5 linked regions of the Homo sapiens genome follow. The protein of the gene in region 1 interacts with the protein of each later gene in a pairwise test. Each region holds a gene or a part of one and is shown on either strand. Other genes may lie near its edges. The genes, in order: CDC25C, ROR2, LMTK2, ERBB4 and YWHAB.

What was found.
Region 2: the proteins of CDC25C (region 1) and ROR2 interact in a two-hybrid assay, tested with the Homo sapiens proteins (one study listed by BioGRID and IntAct).
Region 3: the proteins of CDC25C (region 1) and LMTK2 interact in a two-hybrid assay, tested with the Homo sapiens proteins (one study listed by BioGRID and IntAct).
Region 4: the proteins of CDC25C (region 1) and ERBB4 interact in a two-hybrid assay, tested with the Homo sapiens proteins (one study listed by BioGRID and IntAct).
Region 5: the proteins of CDC25C (region 1) and YWHAB interact in binary tests that used the Homo sapiens proteins (3 or more experiments, as listed by UniProt).

What each region holds. Positions count from the first base shown.
Region 1 is NC_000005.10:138,289,025-138,294,906, forward strand, and holds part of CDC25C (M-phase inducer phosphatase 3), read right to left. Parts: intron 3,093-5,882; coding exon 2,946-3,092; intron 1,717-2,945; coding exon 1,615-1,716; intron 540-1,614; coding exon 477-539; intron 1-476. UniProt on the Homo sapiens protein: Functions as a dosage-dependent inducer in mitotic control. Tyrosine protein phosphatase required for progression of the cell cycle. When phosphorylated, highly effective in activating G2 cells into prophase.
Region 2 is NC_000009.12:91,728,836-91,734,717, forward strand, and holds part of ROR2 (tyrosine-protein kinase transmembrane receptor ROR2 isoform 1 precursor), read right to left. Parts: intron 4,602-5,882; coding exon 4,287-4,601; intron 2,321-4,286; coding exon 2,075-2,320; intron 1-2,074. UniProt on the Homo sapiens protein: Tyrosine-protein kinase receptor which may be involved in the early formation of the chondrocytes. It seems to be required for cartilage and growth plate development. Phosphorylates YWHAB, leading to induction of osteogenesis and bone formation.
Region 3 is NC_000007.14:98,111,918-98,117,799, forward strand, and holds part of LMTK2 (serine/threonine-protein kinase LMTK2 precursor), read left to right. Parts: intron 1-5,882. UniProt on the Homo sapiens protein: Phosphorylates PPP1C, phosphorylase b and CFTR.
Region 4 is NC_000002.12:211,383,141-211,389,022, forward strand, and holds part of ERBB4 (receptor tyrosine-protein kinase erbB-4 isoform JM-a/CYT-1 precursor), read right to left. Parts: intron 4,853-5,882; coding exon 4,805-4,852; intron 4,011-4,804; coding exon 3,713-4,010; intron 921-3,712; coding exon 475-920; 3' UTR 1-474. UniProt on the Homo sapiens protein: Tyrosine-protein kinase that plays an essential role as cell surface receptor for neuregulins and EGF family members and regulates development of the heart, the central nervous system and the mammary gland, gene transcription, cell proliferation, differentiation, migration and apoptosis.
Region 5 is NC_000020.11:44,890,971-44,896,852, reverse strand, and holds part of YWHAB (14-3-3 protein beta/alpha), read right to left. Parts: intron 1-5,882. UniProt on the Homo sapiens protein: Adapter protein implicated in the regulation of a large spectrum of both general and specialized signaling pathways. Binds to a large number of partners, usually by recognition of a phosphoserine or phosphothreonine motif.

The sequences.
Region 1 (5,882 bases):
CACGATCTCTGCTCACTGCAACCTCCCCAACTGGGGTTCAAGCAATTCTTGTGCTTCAGCCTCCCAAGTAGCTGGGATTATAGGCACACATTACCACGCCTGGTTAATTTTTTTGTATTTTTATTAGAGATGGGGTTTCGCCATGTTGGCCAGGGTGGTCTCGAATTCCCTGCCTCAAGTGCCTGAGATCTGCCTGCCTCAGCCTCCCAAAATGCTAGGATTTCAGGCGTGAGCCACCATGCCTGACCCCTCCCTTTTTCCCTTTTACAAAAACTATGTATCATTTGTTTAACTAAAAACGAAGGAGAGAGAAGAATGGGGAAAAAAATGAGTCCTTCAATATAACTTCAGTTGAATAAGGAGCCTGTGTGAGTGAACACAGTGAAAGAAATACAAATGGAAATGGGCATTTTAGGGACAGAAGAGACCAGATGGTAGCTTATGTAACCAGTTACCATCTCCAGAAATCTGCTTACTGTTTCTGGGTTGACATACTTCAGATCTTGGTGTTTCCCTGACACGGTTGGCAGCGCACATACCTAGAAATACACAAGAGCTGAAATAACAGCAAGTATTCCACACCCAAGTTTGAGATCAAAGACCCTTATTTTGTCCTTCTTTCCAAGTGACCCTTAAAACCCCAGAGGCCTTCAAAAAAATCAGTGTCTCTATAAAGTGCATATACATCAAGTCCATTTCTAAGAACTGATCCTAAAGAACAAATCAAGGATGTGTACGAAGTTTTAGATTTCTCTACAAATATATTCATCTTGGTATCATTCATAAGAAAAAATTGTAAAACCAAATATCTTACAAGAAGGGATTTATGAAGAAATTATGAGCAGCCAAAAAAAAAAAAAAAAGAAATAATATGGAGCTATTAAAATGAAATGGGCTGGGCATGGTGGCTCATGCCTGTAACCTCAGTGCTTTGGGAAGCCAAGGAGAGAGAGGATTTCTTGAGGCCAGGAGCTCGAGGCTGAAGTGAGCTATGATCATGCCAATGTACTCCAGCCTGGGCAACAGATCAAGACCTTGAATCTTAAAAAAAGAAAGAATGAAGCATAACTGCTTATTAATATGAAAAAAGATGCCCCTGATATAATTATTAAATGAGAGGAAAAACAACAGATAACAAAACAATATAAACTGTTTTTGTAGAAAAGCAAAAACTGTATTTGTATATGTGTTTGTGAAAACACAGAAAAAAATCTGTAAGAATATGTACCTTCTGCAATTACACAGACAGTAGGGGGGAAAAAAAGAGTATATACTAAGCAATATTACCCTGGTTAATAAAGTTTGGGATAAATTTCTTCATTTTCTACTTTTTCTGTAACAACCAAGTATTATTTACATAATTTTAAAATATGTTTTTAAACAGAAAAAAGGTAAAAAGTCTCATACTTTCCCCTGTTCTGGATCTTCCCAGAAGAATAAGAAATACTTTCTCTCTGGAAAGGCTTAGGGCCTGGATCTACCACTAGAGCACTGTCAGGTTACCAAAGAGTACTTGGTGAGGATGCATATTTACACCAGGCATTCTCGGCAAACAGAGAAGATTCAGATCCAAAATGACTCACTGAAATACAGGATGGGTGTAGCCAAACTCACCTTGGAAAAATCACCAATCAGGTGCCCCTGGTTAGAATCTTCCTCCAGCATCTGAGTGATAGTAATGTCACACAGAGAGACTGTCTTCTTTAAACATAAGCCCTGAAGATGACAAGATTCCCACCCCACACCCAATCCTCATGTTAAAGGTTTAAAAACCAGTGGATGGAGTGGGCCATGGTGGCGCACATCTGTAATCCTAGCTACATGGGAGGCTGAGGTAGGGAGATCACTTGAGCCCAGGAGGCCAAGGCTATAGTGAGCTACGATTGCACCACTGCACTCCAGTCTGGGAGACAGAGTGAGACTCCATTTGTTTATTTATTATTTTTAATAATAAATAAATATTGAGGCTGCAGTGAGTCAAGACCATGCCACTGCAATCCAGCCTGGGTGACAGAGTGAGACCCCATCTCAGGGGAAAATAAATAAATAAATAAATAAGTTGATTTTATAAAATATCCAAAGATTTTAGAATTTTAATTTTTTATTTTATTTTTTTTTATTAGAGATGGGGTCATGCTATATTGACCAGGCTGGTCTTGAACTTCTGACCTTAAGTGATCCTCCCATCTATTTAATTTTTTTAAAGTTGGGGAGGGTAAAGGACAAAGGCTAAGTTTTTCAGAAGTTGCTTTCCACAAAACCAACCTGCTATATGATGTTGTTTCTGTCAGACTGCATGTAAAACAGCAGTAAAATATCCATACCAAAGTTCCCTTGTATTCTTTCAGATCTTAAGAAAAAGGGTTGGGAAGACGGTATGATGACAACATTTCTCTTTTTTTTTTTTTTTTTGAGACGGAGTCTTGCTCTGTTGCCCAGGCTGGAGTGCAGTGGCACAATCTTGGCTCACTGCAACCTCCACCTCCCGGGTTCAAGCGATTCTCCTGCCTCAGCCTCCTGAGTAGCCGGGACTACAGGCACATGCTGCCACGCCCAGCTGATTTCTTGTATTTTAGTAGAGACGGGGTTTCACCGTGTTGCCCAGTCTGGTCTTGAACTCCTGAGCTCAGGCAATCCGCCCGCCTCGGCCTCCCAAAGTGCTAGGATTATAGGCGTGAGCCACTGCACCCGGCCTATGACAACATTTCTAAAAGTACAATATAGATATACTTTATGTATCTATGTTATATAAATATTTTATATATATATATATATTTCACGTGGATACAGATGTAGAAAAGACAGAAAGATGGAAAGAACAAAGAGGAAAAAGTAAAAGTAAAGAGGAAGAAGACAAAAAAGGCATAATAAAACAATCCTCATACCAGAAAAGCAAAGACATGAGATAGAAGATGAACAAGATTTTCATCTTAAAAAGTTCTTACCTTCCTGAGCTTTCCTTGGCCAGAAAAATACTTTTTTTTAACTTTATCTGGTATTGTGTTGTCCTTGAATTTTTCCACCTGCTTCAGTCTTGGCCTGTTCAAGTTCTCTGGCATCGACGGGGAGCGATATAGGCCACTTCTGCTCACCTGTTTGGGAATATTAAACCCCCTAGTTCTTACTCCTCCAAGTGTGTCTGCAGACCTGCAGCAACAACATCTCCTGGGAGCTTCTTTGAAATGCAGGTTTCCAGATGTTAGGCCACACCCCAAACCTACTGAATTAAAATCTGCATTTTAACAAGATGCCCAGGTGATTTCTCAAGTTTGAGAAGCCTTGGGTAGGCAACCTGTCTTCATAGGCCCGTTAATATCTTTCTACCTGGACTGCATGATATTCCATCTCCATGGACGTCTTAACTAGCCAAACCAAATTCTGCAGCTGACTGTCTTAGATGCACCAGTTCTTCTAACAGAAAGCAAACACAAGCTCAGTCCCTCCAGTTATGTGACCAAAAAAAAAAAAAAAAAAAAAAACATAAGTCCATTTTGTCTCTGGGATCCTAGGACATTGACAATCAGGATTTAAGGACCTCAACAAACCTAAAGATGAAAAGCCAAGAAGAAAAATAGCAAAAGAAGCATCATGCAAGAAAAAAGGACACACTAAAATCAAATAGCATGCTGACCATTATAGGATGGATACTATGAAACCCATCAGGGAAAAAAAAGTGGCTCAAACGTCATGAAGAACTAGCCTTGAGAATTGCTTACACAGGAACAGATTAAAGTATAAGAGGATAGACTGTTGTTTATTTGAAAGGCATGGTTTGGGTGCTATATTCAGAGTTGAGGGTCTATCAAATGACCTCTGATAACACCTTCCAACTAATCCACAATTCTATCCTCTGTTGCCACATACTTTGAGATCTCTACCTCTCACCTAGAGAACAGGCAAAAGCTCCTTCTCTAAACACTTATCGCACTACCTGTTATGGACTGATTTAGGAGGGGGGCTATACAATAAGAGAGCCATAACTGGAAGGCAGCTTGATGATCAATGGTTTCTGGAAGAACGAAATAAGAATAACAACATTTTGCTTTATGACAGCTATGGATATTATGTTGTTTATCACACACATGGTCCTACCTCTTGTTCGTGATACCAGCTGATGGTACCGTCCACATTATACGTACCCTTAGACTCCTTCCAAACATCGCCCTATGTCCCCATCCACCCTACCCCCCAGACACTGATGACTGGACCATATTGCTGGTTGAACACATCTATTTAGTGGTCTAGAATAAGCAAAAATAATCTAGGCCAATCAGGTTCCCTCTCTTGGTTGCCTAACTTGGAAGATGGAGAAATAATTAGGCAGTAGCAGAAGCCAAAGCCCAAAAGGAAGAAGCCAAGAGATACAGTCAAGGCCACGAAGCCAGTGATGCATGAATGGATCAACCAAAGGTAGGGTAGGAAAGGAGATATGGTGAGGCACTGAGGAGTAGGGTGCCTGGTCTCCATGACAGACAGGACTTCATATAACTTCAATTTTCCCCTGAGAAGGCAGGGGAAAGCTAGATGAGGATTTCAAAAGGGGCTTCTCTAGAACACACCATAATAATTATGCTAAGAGCCATATTACTAAGAGTTTGGAATTAATTAGCTAATTGAAACTTATCTTTTTTTTTTTTTTTTTGAGATAGGGTCTCGCTGTCACTCTGGTTGGAGTGCAGTGGCACAATCTTAGCTCACTGCAACCTCTGCCTCTCAGGCTCAAGCGATCCTCCCAACTCAGCCTCCTGAGTAACTGGGACTACAGATGCGCATCACCATGCCCAGCCAATTTCTGTATTTTTTATAGAGAGAGGGTTTTACCATGTTGTCCAGGCTGGTCTCGAACTCCCGGGCTTAAGTGATCCATCCGCCTTGGCCTACCAAAGTGCTGGGTTTACAGGCATGAGCCACCACGCCCAGTCTGTATCCATTTTTAAGCATTGTATCTAATAAATTTTTGCCAACTCAAGGTCACAAAAATTGTCTCCGTTTTCTTTGGATTTTTTTTTTTTTTTTTTTGAGACAGAGTCTCACTCTGTCGCCCAGGCTGGGGTGCAATGGCATGATCTCGGCTCATTGCAACCTCCGCCTCCCAGGTTCAAGTGATTCTCCTTGCCTCAGCCTCTGGAGTAGCTGGCATTACAGGTGCTGACTACCATGCTTGGCTAATTTTTTTTTTTTTTTTGAGATGGAGTCTAGCTCTGTCACCCAGGCTAGAGTGCAGTGGCACGATCTCGGCTCATTGCAACCTCTACCTCCCAGGTTTCAGCAATTCTCCTGCCTCGGCCTCCCGAGTAGCTGGGATTACAGGTGCCTGCCACCATGCCCAGCTAACTTTTGTATTTTTAGTAGAGACGGGGTTTCACCGTGTTGGTCAGGCTGGTGTCGAACTCCTGACCTCGTGATCCATCCACCTCAGCCTCCCAAAGTTCTGGGATTACAAGTGTGAGCCACCGTGCCCAACCACTCAGCTAATTTTTTTTTTTTTTTTTTTTTTTGAGACAGAGTCTTGCTCTGTCACCCAGGCTGGAGTGCAGTGGCGCGACCTCAGCGCACTGCAAGCTCTGCCTCCCGGGTTCATGCCATTCTCCTCCCTCAGCCTCCTGAGTAGCTGGGACTACAGGCGCCCGCCACCATGCCCAGCTAATTTTTTGTATTTTTAGTAGAGATGGGGTTTCACCATCTTAGCCAGGATGGTCTCGATCTTCTGACCTCATGATCTGCCCGCCTCGGCCCTCCAAAGTGCTGGGATTACAGGCATGAGCCACCGCGCCTGGCCCCGCTCAGCTAATTTTCCTATTTTTAGTAGAGATGGGGTTTCACCATGTTGGTCAGGCTGATCTCGAACTCCTGACCTCAGGTGATCCACCAGCCTCGGCCTC
Region 2 (5,882 bases), on another chromosome or scaffold:
GATATGTGTGTTCTCCCACAGCTGCATGCCACTCCACAGCACAGGCGTCTCCAACTGCCCCATCCAGCCCTACTGATAAACAGTCTGTTTTATGTTTAGCTCTCACAAGTGATTCTGCAATAAATATCCTTCCATTTATGCCCTGTAAGTACAAACCTGCGATACAAGATTCTAAGAATTGACTGGTCCAAAATCATACATTTTTTTCATGCTTTGATTTATTTTTAATTACAAAAGTAATTCCTACTCACTGTAAAAAAAAAAAAAAAAGTCTTGTATTTGAACACTTTTGTAGGTCTGGGGAAATCACTGCTAAAAGTTTGATATCCATCTTTCCAAAACCTCGTAAAAGTCAGGAGCCTGTGTGTGCTCACACACAAACTCCCACTCATTTTCCTTTTGCCAGAAACAAAACAATAAGCAAAAAAGCACCTCTAACACAGTTCTGTCCTACAACCTGCTTTTGTTCCTTACAGGGCACAGGGCCATCCTTCATTGCAGGACAGCTTTAAGGTCTGGAGTGCTCCAGAGTGCCTAGACCGCAATTTGAATGACTGATAATTTCATTCTTAAAATTTGTTCTCCCATAATGAACACATTCTTGAAGATTTGTGTCTGATCTGCTGAGCCAGAGGCAATGCCAAATCTGGAGCTGCTGAATCACACATCAGGAAGGTCATTAGTGCCAGTGTTTATTTCCTGCACTTCGGAGTAGAGACACGCGGGCCTGCACCCCAGGAGGAGATCTCCAGGTGCATGGTGAGCCCAGCCTCGCTTCACCGGCTGCTCTCTCTTTATCCGCGGGTGCCCACTCATTCACCAATTGCTGCTTCCAGCTCCCAGCCCAGCCTTGGTTACCCTGCTGCCTGGACTGGTGAACCGGGCATGACTAAGACAGAGGTGAGAACTGTCGAAGCTGTCAACCATCAGCCACGTGAGCTTCCATATTCATGACATTACAGACACACTTGCAAGGAATGAGGACAAGCAATGAATTCTATTTTCGCCTCACTCCACCAAACCTAAGTGTAAAATCTGAGAAGCAGTGAAAAGCTCAAAAGCTGGTGGGTGGAAGGGAAATATTTTTACGAATATTAGGAACTACTGAGCAATAATGGTGTTTTTTGTTTTTTGTTTTTGAGAAAAGGTCTTGTTTTGTTGCCTAGACTGGAGCGTAGTGGCACCATGATGGCTCACTGCAGCCTTGAACTACTGGGCTCAAGCAATCCTCCCACCTCCACCACCCAAGTAGGTGTGCCACCACGCCTGGACAATTTTTGTATTTTTTGTAGAGACGGGTTTTTGCCATGTTGCTCAGACTGGTTTCAAGCTCCTGGGTTCAAGAGATCCACCCGTCTTGGCCTCCCAAAGTACTGGGATTACAGGTTGTGAGCCACCGCACTGGGAGATAATGTTAATGGAGAAACAAAATGTCAAAGTGAATATCCCAGGACCATCCATACATGGGAAAAGGGCTGATGGAAGGGGGTGGGCCAAAACGCAAACAAGTCACTACTGGGTGGTAACATTAGGGGTGATCTGACATTACTCTTCAGACTTTTCTATATTTTAAAATGTCTTGTAATGGTCAGATGTTACTTTCATAACAACCAATAACTTGCGTTATTTATTTATTTATTTTTGAGACAGGGTCTCACTCTGCTGTCCATGCTGGAGTGCAGTGTCACAATCTTGGCTCACTGCAACCTCCGCTTCCCAGGCTCAAGTGATTCTCCTGCCTCAGTCTCTTGAGTAGCTGGGATTACAGGCATGTGCCACCGCACCTGGCTAATTTTTGTATTTTTATGGGGTTTCACCATGTTGACCAGGCTGGTCTTGAACTCCTGACCTCAAGTGATCTGCCCACCTCGGCCTCCCAAAGTGCTGGGATTATAGGCATCAGCCACTACGCGTGGCCCAACAGCTTTATTTAAAATGGTCACTGTGGTAAGATCAGGGGTCTCTGGTCGCCACCGTACAGAGGCACACCCCAACCCAGGTCAGGACAGAACGCCCTCATCACAAGGTTCACTCAACAATCAACACATTAAAAAAAGAGAGAGAGAATACATACTACACGAGGGTACGTCACACAGTTCCATGCGTACGTTTTTATTCTGCGTAAAGCACCAGGGGCCCTCCATCTGGCCTCCGGGGTTCCGGCAGTAGGCGTGCCCCCCTCCAAGCTCAGGGAAGTCTGTGCTGGACAGGTGGTGGCTGTGGGGGTGCTGCAGGGCCCACGGCTGGCACTGGTGGCCTGACTTGGTGGTGCTTGCCGTTCCTCTGTAATCCATGCCTGAGCCGTTATAGCACTGATGGTCTGAACAAGGAAAACACGTTAGGAAAACCTCCGGGGTACAACAAAACCATTCTGCCTACACATGCCCAAACTAGAATTTCCAAAAGATCCAAGGATTTTACATAACTTACCAGAAAAGAGGCATTAAAAGTAATGGCTTAATGAAGTCCCAAGCCCACAAATTAAATGCAGGGCACATCAGGGATAGGCATGGGGAAGGAAACTTGTCTAAAGTTATTCCACAGCCCCAGAACCATCTCTTGGGACCCACGAGGCACCTGCACACCACCACCCCACCAGAATGGGGATGTCTCCCCAGCCTCAGGATCAACTTGCTCTAGGAAGAAAGCCAACTGTGCAAGCAAGAAGGGCCTGGCCCCTCCATCTCAGGACACCCTGCTCAGCCATGGGTGAGAACAGTGCAGGCCACGCCACCTCCATGGAGGAACCCTGGGGTTGGGGTGTGCATTTGGTGAACATTTCTGTAGTGTTTACCATGTGTGGGGCGCTGCTCTAAACCCTCCTGGCTGGGGCACCGTGGCTAACAAGGCGGGTGGATCACTTGAGGTCAGGAGTTCAAGACCAGCCTGGCCAACATGGTGAAACTCCGTCCCTGCTAAAAATACAAAAATTAGCCAGATGTGGTAACGCACGCCTGTAGTCCCAGCTACTCAGGAGGCTGAGGCAGGGGAATCGCTCGAACCTGAGAGGTGGAGGTTGCAGTGAGCCAAGATTATGCCACTGCACTCCAGCCTCAGTGACAGAGTGAGACTCTGTCTCAAAAAAACAAAACAAACAAAAAAACCACCTTCCTAAATATTGCCTCATTTGACCTTCATTTCAGCCCCACGGGTTAGTACTGGTGTCATCCCCACGGAATATAAGGATATGAGAGCTTAGCAACTTGTCCAGGGTCACAATGAGGGTCTGAATGCAGGCAACGGGCCCAAGGACCAGGCCCTGGCTGGTCCTGGTAAGGAGTCCTGGCCATTCCTGGACCCCCAGATTAGCCAACGATGCTAAATACAGCCCCGGAGCTGTGGCGGAGGTGGCCCGTTCCCTAGGTCTCACTCCTCAGGGAGGCAACAACCCGTATGGATGCAGTGATGTCAGCCAATGGTTTTCCTCGGAGACATAAGCAGCGCTCCCTGTCCTGTGTCTGCCATCCTGACTGGCCATGGCCACCCTGCTGGGGCTCACAACTTGGGGTTTACTAAGCCTCCAGAGGGCAGGGGCTGCTGCCAGCAAGAGGGGCAGTGGGGAGCATGCTCTTCGTCCTGTGCAGACCCCAAACAGGCCACACCCAGGCCCCGGGCTCAGAACTGTCCCCCTCCCCCACGCTCATCCCTTAGGCCCCACGATTCAGGGACCTGTAGAAAGGTGCACGGTGCTTCCCTGTATTTCCTTCCCTAGTGATGCCTGATTGTTACAGGTTCTTCTCAGGTGCCCTCCCAGGCCAGTCCTGCAGCATCTCCGTGGGCCTCACATTCATCCAAGGCTAAGGATCCTACAGGTTTCTGGGGACTGATCCTCCAGGTTTCAGGAGGTTGGGGCAGGAGTTGAGAGTCTGCATTTTCGCCTGGCGGCCCGAGTGCGTGCTGACCGTCGGGCAAGTTAGGAAGCTGGCCCTGTCTCCTCTCATGCCCGCAACAGCCATTTCCACAGGAAGTGAGATCACTCCCATTTCAGAGAAGGGAAATCCCAGGCTCAAGCAGGTGGAGGGACTTCACCTGAGTCCCACAGCTGGACACAGTGCAAGCCCACATGCGAGCCTGGGGCTGAATGGCTCCAAAGCCCCTGATCCGAGGCCCCGCCTGCTGCCCTGCTGGAATGGAGGCCTAGGCTGTGGGGCCCTCGGCTGCTAAGGGGGTTCTGTGGGGCCTGGACAGATGGGGCTCCCTGGGCTTCACCGACACCCCCATACACATTTCAAGGGCCCTACACTCCCTGCGCCCCCCGGTCCCGCCCCGGGCCCTCGGGCACTCACAGCGGCCCAGCCTCTCGGCTGGGATGCCAATGCGCATGCAGTTGGCAGCGTCGGGGCTCTCAGGCATGGGCAGCGCCTCACACTTGGGCAGCTGAAGCCGCATGAGGATGAGCGGGTTGGAGCGGGCGATGGTGTACTCCTGGCGGCACAGGTCGCTCTCCAGCACCTCGCACTCGTCGCGGCACAGCTCACGCGGCTTGGGTGTCCGGGAGCGCGCGTCGCACAGAGGAAACACGAAGTGGCAGAAGGATGGGATGGCGAACTGTGAGCACTGGTCCGACAGGTGCGTAGACGTGCCGATCATGGTGAAGGCCGCTGCAGAGCCCGCGAGACTCGCGTTAGCGGGGGACCCACCTTGCGCCCTTGACATTCATCCAGTCCCCACCCCCAGCCTGGCATCCCAGACTGCCCACTCAGCCCCCTGATGCCCCGCCCCGCCCCAGACTCCCCAACCCCGAGCCCCGCACACCACCCTGGAGAGGCTCCCCACCAGCAGGCCAGCCTGCCCATCACCTGCTCTGATTTGCAGCAGTCACAGAAAAGTCCCTGGTCCCAGGGCCTCACTTAGAAACATCAGAAGCAGAACAAGAAAGAAGGAAAACTCGGCCCCCTAGCTCACTCCGCTAGGTGCTTCTTCCAGGACAAGAGGGTTCAGACTTCAGATGCAAAAGCAGATCCTAAGGACCCGCCATGTGTGGAGAGCGCAGGCCAAGAAGTGCAGTACCGAGCCCCAGGCTTCCCAATGTCCCAGATCTGTCTGGGGAGAAGGCTGTCCCGGAAGAGGGAGTCAGCTCAGCTCTGTGAACTGCAGCTGGAGGAGACAGTTGGTAAAATGCGGAAAGCCAAGAGGGTGAGAGCAGCAAAGTGGGAGGAGAGCCGCGTTACAACTCTGGAAGGTTCTGTGATAAGGGGGAGCAGAAAAACCCGAAGATCCAGAGCCCCCTTTGGTAGGGCGGTTTGTTTTTTAAGGGCAAGATGTCAGAGGATGCAGTTTGGTGGTTAGAAGATGGGGTGAGTTCGGGAACAAAGTGGGGGTGTTGGGGAGAGATCTGCTGCACCTGGGGTGCATGGCTGGACACTGGTAAGGGTGAAGAAGCTGGCCAAGGCAGGGCTCTAAGGAATGCATCAGCCTGCCCTGGGCTCACTACCCCATTTTCACCTGTGAAAGGCTGGCTTACAACAATTGAGCTTGGGGACAGTGGAGGCAGACAGGCCCCTTTGCCTGCACACCCAGCAGAGGCTGTGTCCTCCAGCGTGGCAGAAAACCCAGAAGCTGGCATTTAGTCCCTGAGGAGCCCTAACTCCACCCACGAATGCAGTTCAATCCCATCATTACAGATTTGGCGATTATTTGGTGATTATACAGAGGGCTGTCAAGAATGCTGGCCTTGACCTCCAGGCAAGGAAAGCGTGTAAGTGCTGTGCCAGGTTTGGCCAGCAGGTGGCAGTGCCGCTGTCAGTCATTCCCTGGGAACCCACCCAGGAACGGGATGGGCAGCTGTGTGGGAACAGCCTTGTGCGTGATCACTTTGTGGTATCACTCATGCCTTTCCGGGCCTGTTTCTGTACCTGAAGAGTGATTTGAGACCCCACACT
Region 3 (5,882 bases), on another chromosome or scaffold:
CTGGAAATTTTTAGGATCATCTGGGTTAGTCTGCTTTTATGTAATAAACCTGTTTTTAAAGTGGAAGATGACTAAAGCTCTTGCATGTGAACAGATGCTGATTTTAATTTATTTAAAGGAATCATGAGCACTTGAAAGTTTTTCTTGATCTTAAACACAATTGTGTATTGTCATGAGGCATCCCTGATTAACCCAGGTTGTAGTAGAACAAGCCCAGAGCTGATGCTTTCTCTTAGAAACCAGAGAGATGAATGTGACTGACGTTTTTCTTTCTCCCTCTCATTTTTCTTTTTTTTAAGAGACAGGATCTTGCTCTGCTGCCCAGGCTAGAGTGCAGTGGTGCGATCATAGCTCACTGCAACCTCCAACTCCTGGCCTCAAGAGATCCTCCCATTTCAGCCTCCCAAAGTGCTGGGGTTATAGGCATGAGTCACTGCACCAGGCAAGACTTGGTTTATCTGTAAAACGGAGAGAATAGTTACAGTCTTGTGAAGGTCCAAACCTGTGTTGTCTAGTACAATAGCCACTAGCTCCCTGTGGATGCTTAAATGTAAACGTTTTAGAACGAAAGCTTCAGTTCTTCAGTGGCACTGGCCACAAGTTAAGGGCTTGATAACTGCAGGTGGCTGGTGGCTACGGCATTGGACAGCACAGAAGAGAACTTCCCATTATGGAAAAAGGTTCTGTGGGACAGGGCTGGTGTGAGGCAGGTACAGTGCCCAGTCCTTGGTTAGGACATGTAAGGCCAGCTGTGATTATAATTATGATCATGATCCTGATTCTTCGTGAACTCCCAAATCTAGGCCCATTACAAGGGTGAGGGAAGTGAGAAGAGGGCTTTGAAAAAAGAAAGAAGAAAAGACAAAATAATTGTGGAGTTTTTGCTGGTGAAGAGATGAGAACTGAGGTAGCACAACCTCAGCTCCCCACTGCAGAACAGAAGAAAGAGACTTCAGGGAAAAACAGTCTTGCTCTGTCACTCAGGCTGGAGTGCAATGGCACAATCACAGCTCACTGTAGCCTCAAACTCCCAGGCTCAAGCAATCCTCCTGCCTCAGCCTCCTGAGTAGGTGTGTGTCACCTACAGACACTTACCTGTAGGTGTGTGACTACAGGTGTGTGCCACCATGCCCACTTTATTTTTTTGTAGAGATGGTGATATGGTTTGGCTGTTTCCTCACCCAATTCTTATCTTGAATTGTAGTTCCCGTAATCCCCATATGTCGTGTGAGGAACCCCATGGGAGATAGTTGAATCATGGGGGTGGTTACCCCCATGCTATTCTTGTGATAGTGAATGAGTTCTCACAAGATCTGATGGTTTTGTAAGGACTTTTCCCCCTTTGCTTGGCACTTCTCTCTCCTGCTGCCATGTGACGAAGGACATGTTTGCTTCCCCTTCCACCGTGTTTATAAGTTTCCTGAGGCCTCCCCAGCCATGTGGAACTGTGAGTCAATTAAACCTCTTTCCTTGATAAATTACCCAGTCTTGAGCGATTCTTTATAGCACTGTAAGAATGGACTAATACAGCTGGCGTCTCACTGTGTTGCCCAGGCTGGTCTCAAATTCCTGGCCTCAAGTGATCCTCCTGCCTCAGTCTCCAAAAGTGGTAGGATTATAGGTGTGAGCCACCGCACCTGGCCCTTTCTCATTTAAAATCATGTGCTTTTATAGTCGACTAGCAGTGCTTTATTACTGTTTTAAAACTTTGTATTTACTAAAATGAGGGAAGGAATATTCTCGGAGGAGATGCTGGACAACCATCTCTGATCTAGAAGACTGCTCCCTCTAGGGATTTTAGATTCCATTATCAGCTTTTCTTTGAATCTTCTTATGAAGATACTGTTGCAGAAAACTGGGGAAGTTATGGTAAAATTAGCATGTCTGCAGAGCAAAATATTGGATTGATGTCTTTTAAAATTGTAGCAAGTGGCTAATTCGGAGCCCTGCCTTGGCATTACAATTGTTTGTCACAAAGAGCAGGCATATCAGAAAAGTAACCTCATTATTAAATTCTTTTTTTTTTTTTTGCAAAAGTTAGCTCAGTGCAGTGATTCCAAATGTCATTTATTGTATTGTGATTCAGGTGGGAAAAGTGAGCACTATTTATGCCAGATGTCTCAGGTACCCGCAGCCACAGCATTGATCAGTATCTTTCATTTTCTCTGCCTTTTTTTCCTTCCCCAACCACAAAAGAGTGACTCTGTATTCCTCTGCCCACCTGGGCCTTTGGTAGGAGGGGGTGGTGGTGGTAAACCTTCTGTTTAATTTTTGACAATTTGGTAGGTAGGTTTTGCATTTTATTATATGTGTTTTTTTAAAGTTTTTTTTTTTTTTTTTTGAGACAGGGTCTTGTTCTGTCACTCAGGCTGGAATGCAGTGGTGCAGTCATATTCACTGCAGTCTCTACTTCTTGGGCTAAAACGATCCTCCCACCTCAGCCTCCTGAATAGCTGGGACTACAGGTGGATACCACCATGCCTGACTGATGTAAAACATATTTTTTCTATAGAGATGGGATCTCACTATATTGCCCAGGCTGGTCTCAAACTCCTGGACTCAAGTGATCCTCCCACCTCAGCCTCCCAAAGTGCTGGGATTACAGGCATGAGCCACTGCACCTGGGTAGTTTTAATATTTTAAAAGGCTTGAGTTACCATCAGGTCAAATTAGGTGTGCAGGACCTTGTGCTATGGCTAAAGTAGCCCCTGTCTCCCTGCATCTGGTGAAGGGAGACGGTCGCATCGGGGTGTCTGCTGCAGCGCATCTGTTGTTGTTCCTGCCTCCACCCTCCACAGCACTTTTTTCAGAGCTAACTTGATCTGCCTATCGCTTGCAAAATATTCCATGCAAATTCCCATCTTCTGGCTCTCCATATATTCTCCCTGTTTGCAATTGCCTCTTTTCCTGCTTCTGTAAGTGCTGCCATCTTTTTATTTTTTTTAAAACCTCTTTGCGGACCCACCTTCCCTACTGAGTTATTGATCCTGGCCCAGCCCTTAGAGATTCCTTCCCTTGGTGAACTTGAGAGTGTATACCTGTGGAGCAAGATGTTTCATGGGGTGCCAGACGAAAACATTGGAACTGATGTTTATTCTCATTTCATCCTCTTAAAAGGTCAACTTATGTGATGTTTTAAGGTATAGAATGTGTGGTACACTAACACATTTTTTGATTTATAAATGACATGGGACGGAAAGAACATAAAATGTACTGCCTGGGTACAGTGGCTCATGCCTGTAATCCCAGCACGGTGGGAGGTCGAGGTGGGTGGATCACGTGAGGTCAGGAGTTCAAGACCAGCCTGGACAACACGGAGAAACCCCGTCTATACTAAAAAACACAAAAATTAGCTGGGTATGGTGGCACACTCCTAAAGTCTCAGCTACTCAGGAGGCTGAGGCAGGAGAGTCGCTTGAACCCAGGAGGCAGAGGTTGCAGTGAGCCGAGATCATGCCATTGCACACCAGCCTGGGCGACAGAGCGAGACTCAAAGAAAGAGAAAAAGAAAGAAGAAAGAAAGAGAAGAAAAAAAGAAAAGAAGGAAGGGAGGGCGGGAGAGAGGAGAGAGAAATTACTGCTGGCTGAAATCAAGAAAGGTTTGGTTTTGGGCCGGGTGCTGTGGCTCACACCTGTAATCTCAGCACTTTGGGAGGCCGAGGCGGGCGGGTCACGAGGTCAAGAGATTGAGACCATCCTGGCCAACATGGTGAAACCCCGTCTCTACTAAAAAGTCAGCTGAGTGTGGTGGCGGGCACTTATAGTCCCAGCTACTCAGGAGGCTGAGGTTGAACCCGGGAGGCGGAGGTTGCAGTGAGCTGAGATCGCACCACTGTGCCCAGGCCTAGTGACAGAGCAAGACTCCATCTCAAAAAAAGCAAAAAAAGAAAGGTTTGGTTTCATCATACCAGTCTACTACTTGCACTTAATAAATACCAAATACCACTTTATATCTTCATATCATTGGTTTTTTGTTTGTTTGTTTAAGAGACAAAGTCTTGCTCTGTTGCCCAGGCTGGAGTGCAGTGAACTGTCATGGTTTACTGCATCCCTGAACTCCTAGGCTCAAGCAGTCCTCCCATGTCAGCTCCTGAGTAGCTGGGACTATAGGCGCATGTAACCATGCTTGGCCAATTTTTACTTTTTGTAGAGATGGTCTACAAAAGTAAAGTTGCCATGTTGCCCAGGCTGGTCTCAAACTCCTGGCCTCAAGCAGTCCTCTGGCTTCGGCCTCCCACGGTGTTGGGATTATAGGTGTGAGCCACAGTGTCCGGCCTACATCATTGTTTAAGTCCTGTCTCTTTACCTAGTTTGCAAGGACCGTGTCTTATATCCTTGGGATAGCACATTTTTGGGATTGGTGTTTGGATGGTATGTCACAGGTTGTAGATGCTCTGTCAGCATTTGTAACTGAGGATGATGAAGATGATACTAGAGAACTAAGTTCTCCAAACCAGTACCTCAGTGTGTGTCTGTGTGTGTGTGTGTGCATGTGCGTGTGTTTGTGCGTGTGTGTGTGTGTTTGTGTCCGCGTGTGTGTGTGTGAAGGAGAGGGTATGAGCTGAAGCCTCTCATTCTCTTGCGGACTTGACTTCCCATGCAGCCACAGACCTTCACCTGGGATGAGGCCATTTATAGTTTTTTTTTTATTAAAACCTTTTTCTTTCACAACAATTTTAGATTTACAGAAACATTGCAAAGATAGTACAGAGTGTTCCTGTGTATCTTTTACCCAGTCCCTGTTGTTAACATCCTATATTAATGTAGTACATTTGTCACAACTAAGGAACAAGTATTAATATATTGCTATTAAATAAGTCCACAGCTTGTTCAGTTTCTTTAATATTTCTCTAGTGTCTTTTTTTCTCTTCCAGGAAACCACATTACATTTAGTAGTTATGCCCCTTGGGCTCCCCCAGTCCATTCCTTGTTTAGAGTGACCTGGACAGCTTTGAGGAGTACTGACTGGTCAGATATTTTGTAGAATGTCCCTCAACTGGGATTTGTCTGATGTTTTTCTCACGATTAGACTGGGGGTGTGGGTTTCTGGGAGGAAGACCACAGAGTTAAAGTGCCATTCTCATCACATCACATCAAGGGTGTGTGCACACAACATCACACAGCATGACTTGTCACTTGATCACCTGGCTGAGTAGTGTTTGTCAGCTTTCACCCTGTAAAGTTACTCTGTCCTCCCCTCCCCATGGTGTACGAGTGCAGGGTCAACACTTAATGAGTGGCAAGCTGTGCTCCACCTCTTTGCAAGGAAGTGTCTGTAGACATTCTTTGGAGTTCTGTTGAAGAGACTCGCGTATTCTCTTCTTTTCTTTTTTTCTTCCTCTTCCCCTTCCCTTTCCTTGACAGGTCTTGCTCTGTAGTCCAAACTGGAGTGCAGTAGCACAGTCATGACTCACTGCAGCCTTGAACTCCCGGGCCCATGCGATCCTCTGTTTATTTCTTTATTCAAGCATTTACTTATGTCAGTGTGGATGCATGGATATTTATTTTATACTTCGAGTTGATTCCACAGTGTTGTTTATTTGTTCTTACATTGTACCAGCTTTGGCCATCGAGAGCTCTTTCAGTTAGCTCCTGGGTGCCCCGCTGACATATCCTCATTTTTTTTTTAAGCATTTCCTTATTTTCTGGCATTTCAAGAAGCTACAGGTTCATCTTGTATATTCCCTGCCCCAGTCCTAGAATCAGCCTTTTCTTCAAGGAGCTCTGGTTCCTCTGATTGGAGAGTGATATGAGAAACCAAGATCTGGGCCAGGCGCAGTGGCTCATGCCTGTAATCCCAGCACTTTGGGAGGCCGAGGTGGGCGGATCACTTGAGGTCAGGAGTTCAAGACTAGCCTGACCAACGTGGTAAAACCTCGTCT
Region 4 (5,882 bases), on another chromosome or scaffold:
TTCTAATGGAAACTTTATTATGATTTCCAGGGATGCTAAATATGCACACATCAGTTCCTGCAGATAGGAACAGATAGCATGGGTGTTTCAACCATCTGCTTTAAAAAAAAAAAAAAAAAAGAAGAGGAAGAAAGAAACAAAGAAAGAAAAAGAAAAAGAAAAAAAGTGACAGCTAGTTTGATAGTAGGCAGCATTGCCTTACATTTTCTGGTCCTTCTCTAGCTGTTTCATTCTCCTGACCAACCCATGCAGAGAAATGAAGAAACATTGTGGTTCCTCCTATCTTTCTCTTTCAGTCTTTCCCTCTAATGTTCAAGTTAGGTAAGCACATAACTATCATTGCATCTCTGTATCTTCCACTGGGAAGTGTCAAAACTACTGGCCTTGGGGTAGAAGGAAGACCACCAGAGAAAGAGAGGGGGGTGGGGAAATTGGAGCAGGTGTGTCTCTCCACCTAAAAAACCACAACTGAGCTTACACCACAGTATTCCGGTGTCTGTAAGGTGGAGGCGGCAGCACAGTGCCTGGCTTCAGGGAGAACTCAGAGAGGTATTCAGGATTCTCTGCCACAATAGGCCGGATCCGCCCATTCTGTTTATAAAAATATTTTGTGCTGTACTCCTGCAGGTAGTCTGGGTGCTGAAGGGTGCTCCGAGGTGGCAGGCTGTGGTTCCAGTAGTCAGGGTTGTCAAACGCTTTCTTGGCCTTCTCTGGCATTGACAGTATGTTGTTCTTCAGGTACTCAGCTTTTCCCAAGGTGTTGGCAAAGGTGTTGAGGTACAGTGGCTCATTCACATACTCATCCTCGGCCTTGGGTGGACCATTGGATGCATTGTGATATTCGGGATTATCCAATGCTTGAAGGTCTCCATTTTTTCTCCGAGAAACAAAAGGGTTCTCCTCCACTGGATTCAGGTATTCTAAAGGAATAAAAAAATATCAGCTAACCTCTAGTTTCTGGAAAATATTAATCAGACCAAGGTTATACATAATGGTTAGCTTCTTTGTCTAGAACAAAAAAACCCACAGATTTGTTTTCATGATTTCTCACAACAAGTATTTGTGGATCACCATTGTCTTATGAAAAAAAGAGTAAGTGGGTCAAAAATGTTTATAATAAAACAAGAAGCCAACGAGGCCAGAATCAGAATTTCTATCTCCTAAATTTTTCTTTCTTTCTAATTGCATTTGTCTCTTCTGCATATGGGGCTGGTTGTTTCAATGTTTTTGTTTTCTAAAAGTTATTTATATTAGGAAATAAGACTACCTATTAGGATTAAATAGTCTTTAAATATACAGACAACTTAACTTCTATAAAGGATATTGAAAAAACAAGAATCTATAGCTGAGTTCCATGCCAAGATGAATAGATGGAGTGAAGAAATCATGTTTTTTAGTCTCTATGGTTTGCTATGATTGCCTATACTGGTAACAAGGATTTAATTGGAGATGCTTCTGAAAAAGGTTTTACACATGGAAAAGAAAGCATCAAAGGAAAAAAATTCAACTAAAAAAGCAAATCTAACAGATAGCTAACATGCCTCTAGTTGACCTGCTTGACATTACATATACTTCTACTTAATAGTAAAGTATAATTATAATATTTCCATTGACCAATCATAATCACAAAGTAGCAAACTATCAGCTTGAATTATATAAAATAAAATAAATTTTGTATATTGAAACCAGTCAATTAGTGCCTATTTTGTACGGATCAATCTAATAAATCCATCTAGTATAGGTATTGGCCTAAAAGGTGCTAATAATTATCACCATTCTCCTGAAGCTTAATTCCACATCTATGTCTATAATATAGACTGCACATAGACATAAACACGCATGTATTGTAAGTCCTCTGACAGTCCTCTCTTTTACTATATACACAAAGCCCTAAGCTATTCCTATTTTGAATTCAAGGCATGAAGAGGGCACAATTCTTTGTTGAGAGGCCATTCTGAAACAAACTTTCTGTCTTTTATCCTTAGCCCAATAAGTAGAGAGAAAAATCCTATTAAGTGAGGATTATTTTTCTCCAAATATATATATACAGAATAGGTAAGTATTTAGCATCATTTATTCAACTTAAAGGGCAGTAATGAATATCCCACTATCATATATAGGCCTTTACAAGACACTATCATTTCATCCTCCCAATTCTGTGAAAAAGAAGTACAAGACTTATTTTTCCAGCTTTGTAGACAGAAAAATGAGATTAAATGATGTGTGCAGGATACAATTAGTGTTGGGATAGAATTCAGGTCTTCTAACTCCTCTTGCATAATCTTCTTATTCTACTGCACTGTTTTTTATTATTGCCCCTGCAGGAGTTGGGTGAACTTTATGCTTAGTAACAAGTTTTAATTTGACAAGTGTATGAAAACATTTATAAGGAATGCAGAATTTGGTCTCTCTTACCAGATTCCTTAAACTTCTTAATTGAAAGAATAGGAATGTCTACACTAAAATTCTGTACTCTCTGAGTACGAGGTTAGACTATAGCAACCTTTTATAGAAACGGAGCTTAGTGTTCAGAGATAAAATCTGAGAATACAGTGTGACTCTATAGGGTGACTTGCTTTTCTCTTCACCTTACCTTTCCTCAATGCAATCTACTTATATATTGTCCTCATGCAAACTTATATAGCTGTCCAATAACTTTACGGTTGGAGTGAAAATCTCCCCAGAAAAGATTCTTCTTTGGGGTGAATCTGCCAAGTCTTCACAACGTCTACATTTGTGTCATTACTAGGCTACTATGAGCATCCAAACTCTTCATTACATTTTTATATGTATAGAAGTTTTAGATATGTAAAAATTTTATCTAGACAGATATATTTTAAAAGGTTATTTACAATTAGAGATCTCTAAATTTTACTTTAAAGGAGAGAACATAACCATATACCAGGCCCTTCTCAGAGTCTTAAAATGTAGTTTACTGTTGACACTAAAGACTGCGAGAGACATGATCATCATTTTTTAATAACAATCATCTATCTTCTCTGTTGTGATACTGTTAGCATAGAAGAAGAAAGGCTGTTTTGTTGCAAAATTGAAGCATTATTTGATTTGGGTGCTTAACATTTCTACTACTAACTTTACAAAATTATTGTTATGCTTTGTAAAACCACAGATTATTATTTTCAAATCTTGGTGGTATGCTTGTAAGTATATACAGGGTCAAACCTTTAATTTTTGAAAAACGTCATATAAGAACATAATATTTTCCTATAATAAACTAGGTTGTTTAAATGTCATCATTTAAATGAGTCAAACAAATCTTTTATTAGTGCCATCAAAAGCATCAGGCACTTTTGCCAACAATACCAGTCTTTCTGATCTCCGCAATTAAGTCCAATAAAGCTATGGTCCTGACACTTTGTAGTATGCTACTTCATTCAAATATTTCAACAAAATATGTTTAGAATAGTGCTTCTCAAGACTGATTGCTGTATGCAGATAGCCTGGGGATCTTGTTAAAATCCAGATTCCTATTCAGACGGGGCCTGCCTGAGATTCTGATTTATATAAATAATAATAAATAATGTGGATGCTGCTGATTCAGGGACCATACTACAAGTAGCAGTAGCCTAGGCCTTTACTGGATCACAAATGTTGTGCTGGTCAGCTATCTGGCAATTTCTATTCTGTACTTTGTTTATCTTGATGGAAGTGAACTTCGAATGGCGATCGTTTCTGAATAATCAGTTCATACCTTGTTTGGGTTTGTCTCGCATAGGAGTCATGTAACCTTCCTCATCCAGCTCTCCTCGTGGGCTCCGTTCTGGGGCAAACACGGTGGGGTCAGCACTGTACCTCTGGGTGCTACTGTCCTCTTGGACATGGGGTGCCACTGGCTTGCGTAGGGTGCCATTACAGCAGGAGTCATCAAAAATCTCAGCAGTAGCACCCTGTGCCACAGGAGCTTCTGGAATTGTGCTAGTTGGGGCTCTGTAGGGCACAGACACTCCTTGTTCAGCAGCAAAACCTCCATCTCGGTATACAAACTGGTTCTGTTAATAAGAGAAACATATGTGGAGAGAAGGCGTTGTTAGAAATAGTTTAAAAATGAATGTTAATAGCCACAAGGATATCAAAGCCAGTCTTTCAGAGAATAGTCATAGTATTTACTGGTTTTTTTTCCCCTAGTGGCTAATGGAGTTACAAACTATAAACACCTAAAATTTCCACTTTTCTTAAAAGATAAATCATCAGAAAATAATTTTGAAATACACATTCTAGTTTTATTAACCAACTGAAACATATTCTAATAAAATGTATTTGATGCCCTTTTCCCACAAGTGCCTATATTTAATACAAATTTCAAAGTGAATTTTTATGATAAATGCAAGTGTCATTAATTATAGACAGTTGTCATTAAGAATAGAAGTACATGGATATATTTTGAATAATCCTATGTCTTTATTCCCTTCGAAAATTCTGTGGTTATTATGAATTTGAGGCTCTAGTACCTAACTAGAGGATCATCACTATAATTCTGACTTTTTAGTACATGACCAATAATCAGGGAAGTAAAGATCACCTCCACATCCAGAAGCATAATTTATGTGCCCAGGTAAATCCTTCAGATAAAAATTGAAAGCTACTGTTGATGCATGATATCTCAATTTCGGATTATCAGCTGAGATAAAAACACATCTACAAAGGCAGCTACACGATGTACACCAAATTCTTAACTCACTGTTGGCAAAGGCAAAATGAGGAAATTATGCAGAGACGAGAGAGGAAACATGGTAAGCAAAGACCGAAAATCCTAAAAGATGAAGGTTGATTGTGAAATACTTACTCCTGACATGGGGGTGTAGGCAGGAGGAGGGCTGTGTCCAATTTCACTCTAATAGGAAAGAAAAATGGAATGATGGATATAATAAGAGGCAATATGAATGAAAAAATTAAAAAAAGAAACGAAAAAGAAAAGCCACATGGGTCGTATGAACCAAAGGGGAAAAAGTGCACAACAGTGAAGCTTCCTAAGCAGCACAATTGTATGCATTCTGACCATAAGCAAGCTTATTTATATGTTTTGAGGAAAATAAATATTTTAATTCAATCCCTGAAAAGGAAAATTGTACAGAAAAAGCAAAATTTTTCAATGGATTAGAAAAGTAAATAATAAACATTCTTCTGATTAACCCTAGAGGAAAGGAAAAGTAGTAAATGAACTATAGCTGTAAATGGGAAACAGTTTCCTTCTTTACATGTCAAAAGATTGAAATGGCCATATTGTCTGCTGTTATTTTTTCTCTTAGAATAAATGTTTCTGGAAGGAGATGGCAGGAGATTTCGATTTGCCTGGACTAATTTTTGCTATCAAGCTACATTTATTTTTCACCACTTCAGCAAAAGGTAAACTCCTTAGTCTCTCCTGATTAAAAGGTATATGCTATTTTATCTTCAGTCTCACATTTTTTTTGTTTTTTTTTTTTAAGTTAAGAAAGAGCAGAAAATTTGGAAAATCAATTCCTTTCCTGAAAACATGCTTTAGATTCCCCTTATGGTATTTATAATGAGTCAAAATCAGATTTCAGTTAAAGAAACAACAACAAAAATACATCTGTATTTTTATAGCTTAACGCTCCATCCTATGGGCTAACTGAAAGAGGATATAAAAATCTAATAAAAGATGAAGGACAGTGTTCCTTAGGGTAAGGAAAAGGAGTTGTATAATACTAATTCTGTTTCTTAATACAAAAATACATTAAACACATTTTTTGAGAACCTACTGTCTATGTGCCAGGCACTTTTCTAGGCACAGGGATAATGCAAAACACAGACCCAAATCGCTTGATTTTATGAAGCTTATATTCTCTGCGATCCAGCTTTAAGTAAACAGAGATGACTAAAATAAACCTCTAAGATACCTT
Region 5 (5,882 bases), on another chromosome or scaffold:
GACTTATATAACATGGATTTTGAAGCAACTAGACCAATTTCAACAGGAAATGGGTTACACAACACCCAGCAGTTTGGAGGAAGGCAGCAAAGGAGAAATGAAATTGTTCCTATTTCTACATCTACAATAAATCTCCCATCCAAAATCTTGCCCTAGTGGCAATGCTTTCAGTCACTCATTATCTACAGCCCCCTCCATGCCTTTGCTGTAAGACCCATTTTCCTATAACTCTGCTCAAGTCACTTCCCGCTCAAAATTCTTTAAAGTTCCCTGATGCCAAAAGCAGAGTCAGATTTCCTCCCCTATCAGTGAAAGCTTGCCAACCTATCTTCCAGACCCCCACATCATGCCTTCCACATCATATGTGCTTCTGCCAAAATGGTTTTCTTACATACAAAGTATGCTTTTCTATCTTTGCTCACCAAGCCACTCCCTCTACCTGGAATGGCTTTTCCCAAATTTACTCTGCATACAAGATTCTTCACAGTGTGGCTCAGATACCATCCCTTCCATGAAGCCTTTCTTAAGCTGTTTAAGCCATAGCCATAGCTACATGTGGCTATTCACTTAAAATGTGGCTAGTGCCACATATTGAAATCATATTTTGTTCATAATGGGTTAAGTAAAAACAGATAGAATCAATTTCACTTTAAAAAAATTTTTAAATGCAGCTACCAGAAAAATTTAAATTACATGTGGCTTATATTCTATTCCTATGGGACGGCATTGCTCTAATGAATATATTCTCACAAAGCATTTCGCTGATACCTGTCAATGTCTTACCACGTTTCTTCAGTACTAAAATTACTTACATAGTGTCTCCTATTTCCCTTCCTACACCATAAGCTCCTTTGGACATATCTCCCACAGCATCCTGTACATAATTGGTAGGAACAAATATCTGCTGAATGAACAAACTGATCCTGAAATGTAAGCATAAAACTGCAGAGTTGGTAGAGTTCTCCCTTTTCTCAAATAATTCAAAGCACCTATTAGCCTCACAAGCATATTAAATCTTCATTACATTTGTACCTAGTTTCTTGAATTTCTGTGCCCTCTGAAATTCAAAGAGTAATTCACTCTTCCAGTCAGGCATGGCAGATCAATCTATAATCCCAGTGCTTTTGGAGGCCAAAGCTGGAGCATCGCTTGAGACCAGGAGTTCAAGACCAGCCTGGGCAACATAGTAAGACCTTGTCTCTACAAAAAATAAAATATTAGCCAGGTGTGGTGGCTCATGCCTGTGGTCCCAGCTACTTGGGAGGCTGAGATGGGAGAATCGCTTGAGGCTAGGAGGCCAGGGATGCACTGAGCCATGACTGCATCACTGCACTCCAGCCTGGGTGACAGACACCCTGTCTCAAAACAAACAAAAAATTACTCTTCCTAAATTACCTCTAGTCTTGCCTTTGTCCTTACTCAGTAACTTCCAATGACTCCCTTTTGGCTACTCCATCAAATTTAAGCTCTACCTGGCTTTCAAATTCCTGATAAATTGTCTCCTCTTTACTTGTTTGGCTTTCTCATCCACTGTTCTCCAACATGTACCTTTCTCTCAGGCTGGCCAGCACCACATGCCCTATAAACACAATGCTCAAACGTGTCTGAAACTGCTTTTGTAGTTCCCTTCATCTAGAGTGCTCTCCTATTTACTGCCTGCCTATCTGAACTCCACCCATTCTTCTAGGGCTACAAACCCTTCCCTGACTGCCCTAGCCCTCACTGATTTACCTTGCCTATGACTCTGAATATACTTATAGCCTATTACATGGTCTAGGACTTCTTTATGCCATTCTGTGATACAGATGAGTACTGTACCACTTACAGCTTCACGTGTGTGCCCTCAAAGGAAAGCTTCATGTTTGTTTCACATTTAATGCTTATAACTGTGCTAAGCACAAAACTCATATGCAAATGAATATCAAGTTTTTCTACAAATCATTATTGGGAGAGCACAAGGAACACAGAGTACCTATATGTAGTATAGTCGGAAGGCAGCAGGACTGTGTGTCACAGCGCAATGTGCCACTATACAGCCATGTGAGCATGTTAAATCTCAGCCTTCCAATCCATAAAATGAAGATGGCATCTACCTCAGTAGAGTTGCTGTGAAGATGAGGCGCAGGGAATTAAAGAATACTAAATGTGGAAATCTTCCTTGAAAAATGCATAGTGCAAAATCAAACTGAAGTACTATTATTCTTCTCCACGACTATTACACTGTAGCAGCCCATAAAACCATAAGCTTGAATTTTCTTTTTAAATATACAATTTTGTGAGAAGGAAAAGCAAAAGTCTAGATTAATCTTGTACAGATAGTTAGTATGTTATGTTAAAATGGACATATATGTTAAATGTAACTGAAGTTTATCCATTAGTTTCTAATTGAATTTTCTAGTGATATGCCATGATGGTTTTTAATCAAGACCTACTGTTGTTCCAAGACTTTGAATGAGGTTCCCACTAAAAAAAAAGTCAGCAAGATACTCTTTATTTGTCTCCTAAAAAGTTTTTGAAAGACTATAGTCTCATCGTCAGGCCTGGCACCACTGCAGAAGCATCAAGATACTGGCGCAGGCAAACTCATTAGAGGCCACAAAAGGCCCAACCCTGCAGTAAGCCAAGAGATTTTCCTTGTGCTGGGCATATTTCAGGAAGAGACTGACGTGCTTGAGAACAGGAGCTCTCCAGCACACCTATATGATGATGATGGCTGTCAATCTGTTCTAAGCCACTGGATGCAGCAAGTCAGGACTGGGAAGCATTTGTTGATAAACGCAGAGATTGCTTAGTGAAAAAATGGAAGCAAATCTAAATATCCAACAATATGGGAATGGTTTAAAAAATAAGGAGACTGGCCAGGTGCACTGGCTTACGTGTGTAATCCCAGCACTTTGGGAGGCCAAGGCAGGCAGATCACCTGAAGTCAGGAGTTCGAGACCAGCGTGGCCAATGTGGTGAAACCCCGTTTCTACTAAAAATACAAAAAAATTAGCCGGGGTGGTGTATGACTGTAATCCCAGCTACTCGGGAGGCTGAGGCAGGATAATCACTTGAACCCAGGAGGTGGAGGTTGCAGTGAGCCGAAACTGCGCCACTACACTCCAGCCTGGGCGACAAGAGCGAAACTCCGTCTCAAAAAAAAAAAAAAAAAAAAAGGCAGGGGAGGGAAGGAGATAGATGGTACAAGATTACGTGGCCATCAAAAGAAGAGATTTAATGTCATGAAAAGATTTATTTAAGAGCAATGGGGGCTGGAGGGACGAGGCTGCACAATATTTTATTTCTGTAAAATATCCCCTAAAGAACAAACAAACCCGAACAGAAAGGTTACACCAAATGGTTAACACTGGTTCTGTCTCTGGGTAATAACATTATTATATCCTCATTTTCCTATCTTTTTAAATTTTCTTCAAGTATGTATTACTTTTTTAAAAATTGGGTACTATTTCTTTTTTTAAGAAAAAAAGTGTTTTTCTGTTTAAAGAGAAACCACTAGTGCAGATAAACAGCTATGAAAAATAATTCTAAAGGTACTCACAAAATAGGATTTTCTTCAAAGAAACAAAATCCTAAATCAGATAATAAATGCTGAAAATAGAGGATCTAGGAAACAGCCTAGCCCCTCTATCCCAATTCCTTCCCCAAGGGACATCTTTCTAGTCAGGGTCAAAATACTGAGAAGTTATTTCCCAGTGGCTAGAGCAGATATCCTAGGAGAAGAATCAAAAAAGAAAGAAAGAAAAGAAAAAGAAGACTACCTACTGCTAATCCATTTTTTTTTAAATAAAGGCAGTGCAAAGACAGAAAGGGTTGAAAATGACAGCTGTGGCCTTTAGAAGCACTGGCTTTCAGCTATGTTTTGTTTTCAAGGCAAAGAACATGCTCGATTCGAAAATAATAAGCTTTGAATTTAATAATTTGTTAGAAATTTCAGATGAAGACTCCATTATTATATGTCAGGAATTACCCAAGCTCTATACATATAAAATATACGGTGGGGTCTGCTTTTAGCAAGCCTTACATACACATCTGAGCTTCTAAAGAGAAAGTAGGTGATTTTTCTACATTTCCACATTATAACTTACCTGAATCTGTTTTCTCAGTGTTAAAAAGAGACATTAATAGCTATCAAATAAGATAATGAACATAAAATGCCCATATAGTGCTGGTTAGAGTAAAGGCTCATAAGCCATTCTTATTTTTTATTCTTAAGCTACCTCACAAAAATGTAACACATATAATCCAATGTGTGTTGAAATAACTAACAAAATGAAAAACTACCAAATTTCTAAGAACTCTTTGGATTATTCATTGAGAGGAATTTAAAAGAAAGCAGTGTAGTCCTCCCCTCAGAGAGCTTAAACTCTAGTGGTAGAAACACAAGAAAAGAGCACATGTATATCTATTACACATCAATTAAAAAAAAAAACAGCACACGTTTAAGGGTTACAATGCCTCTCCTTAGAAAGCCAACCAGACAGAACTAGAGGAAATAGGTTTAAAGGTAGCTAGGTCGTGACTTAAAAAGAGATGTTATTAATAAAGTGCATGTATGTTTTTCTAGATGAGATAAAAATCAAAGGCCAAAGCAGATAAAGAAATGAGAATAAGGAAGAAAACTGACAAGAAAATCTGAAAAATCTAGGCTCGAATGTTTCAATGGGGTAAGGAACTGATCACATATTCTGAACAGCATTCACAGATGTACCATTCCAGATAGAGCATCCACAGCACTGTACAGCAGAAGTTTTAGTTCTGGAGTCTCTCTGCTGAAGAAAAATCAGATGCCAAGCTACTGCAGAAGGGACTGAGAAAGTCAGTGGGACCAGGTGGTTAGTGGGTGTTACCCAGAAAAAGTTAAACACTCCTGGCTCTCAGAGAAAACTACTCACTAAAAAACACCCACTATAAAACTGTCTGTGTGCCATTCTACATATAAAATTTAGAGTCCTGTAATAAATTTAATTCCATTCAAACATTTGCAGGTTCTTTGTTAGGAAACAAAACACAGCATATCTGTAATACAAAGTCATTAGCACTAAGTCCAGTGAACACTGAATTTGGAGAGAAACTGCATTTCTATTATTTCAAAATCCCTTCCCTCTTTCACATCAGCTGTTGCATATCATTGCTAATTATGTCCAATTAGCCATGATTAAACTTACTGAGGGTGTTAAGTGACAGGCGCAAGGTTACACATGTGACTTAATGGTAGATATGACAATAAATTGACTTCTTGGCTTAAGTAATCAATCCAAAAGACACTATGTTAATTCTGATCCATAAAGACAGCCCAATTGGTTGACCTTATGAATAATTTCTACAGTTTGGGGCCCACTGACATAATGAAGCCTATCAGTCTGATTTACCAGTACCGCACACCAAGTCCACAGGCTATGTGACCTCTGTGAATTTGTTTTCTCATCCATAATACAGGCAAATCTGGGCTGGGCGTGGTGGCTCACGCCTGTAATCCCAGCACTCTGGGAGGCCGAGGAGGGTGATCACTTGAGGTCAGGAGTTCAAGACCAGCCTGGCCAACATGGTGAAACCCCGTCTCTACTAAATATATAAAAAAATTAGCCGGGTATAGTGGCAGGCGCCTGTAATCCCAGCTAATTGGGAGGCTGAGGCAGCCTGAAGGCAGAGGCTGCAGTGAGCTGAGATCACGCCACTGCACTCCAGCCTAGGCGACAGAGCAAGACTCTGTGAAGAAAAAAAAAAACATAGGCAAATCTACTTACTAGGGTTCCTGTAAGGAGTAAACCTGTTTATGATATAAAACAGTAAGCACTCAAATAAATGGCAACCACAGTACATTCCACACAAAACTTAAAAAACCAATGGTCAGCCAGTGAAGGGAAACTTACTATGTACCT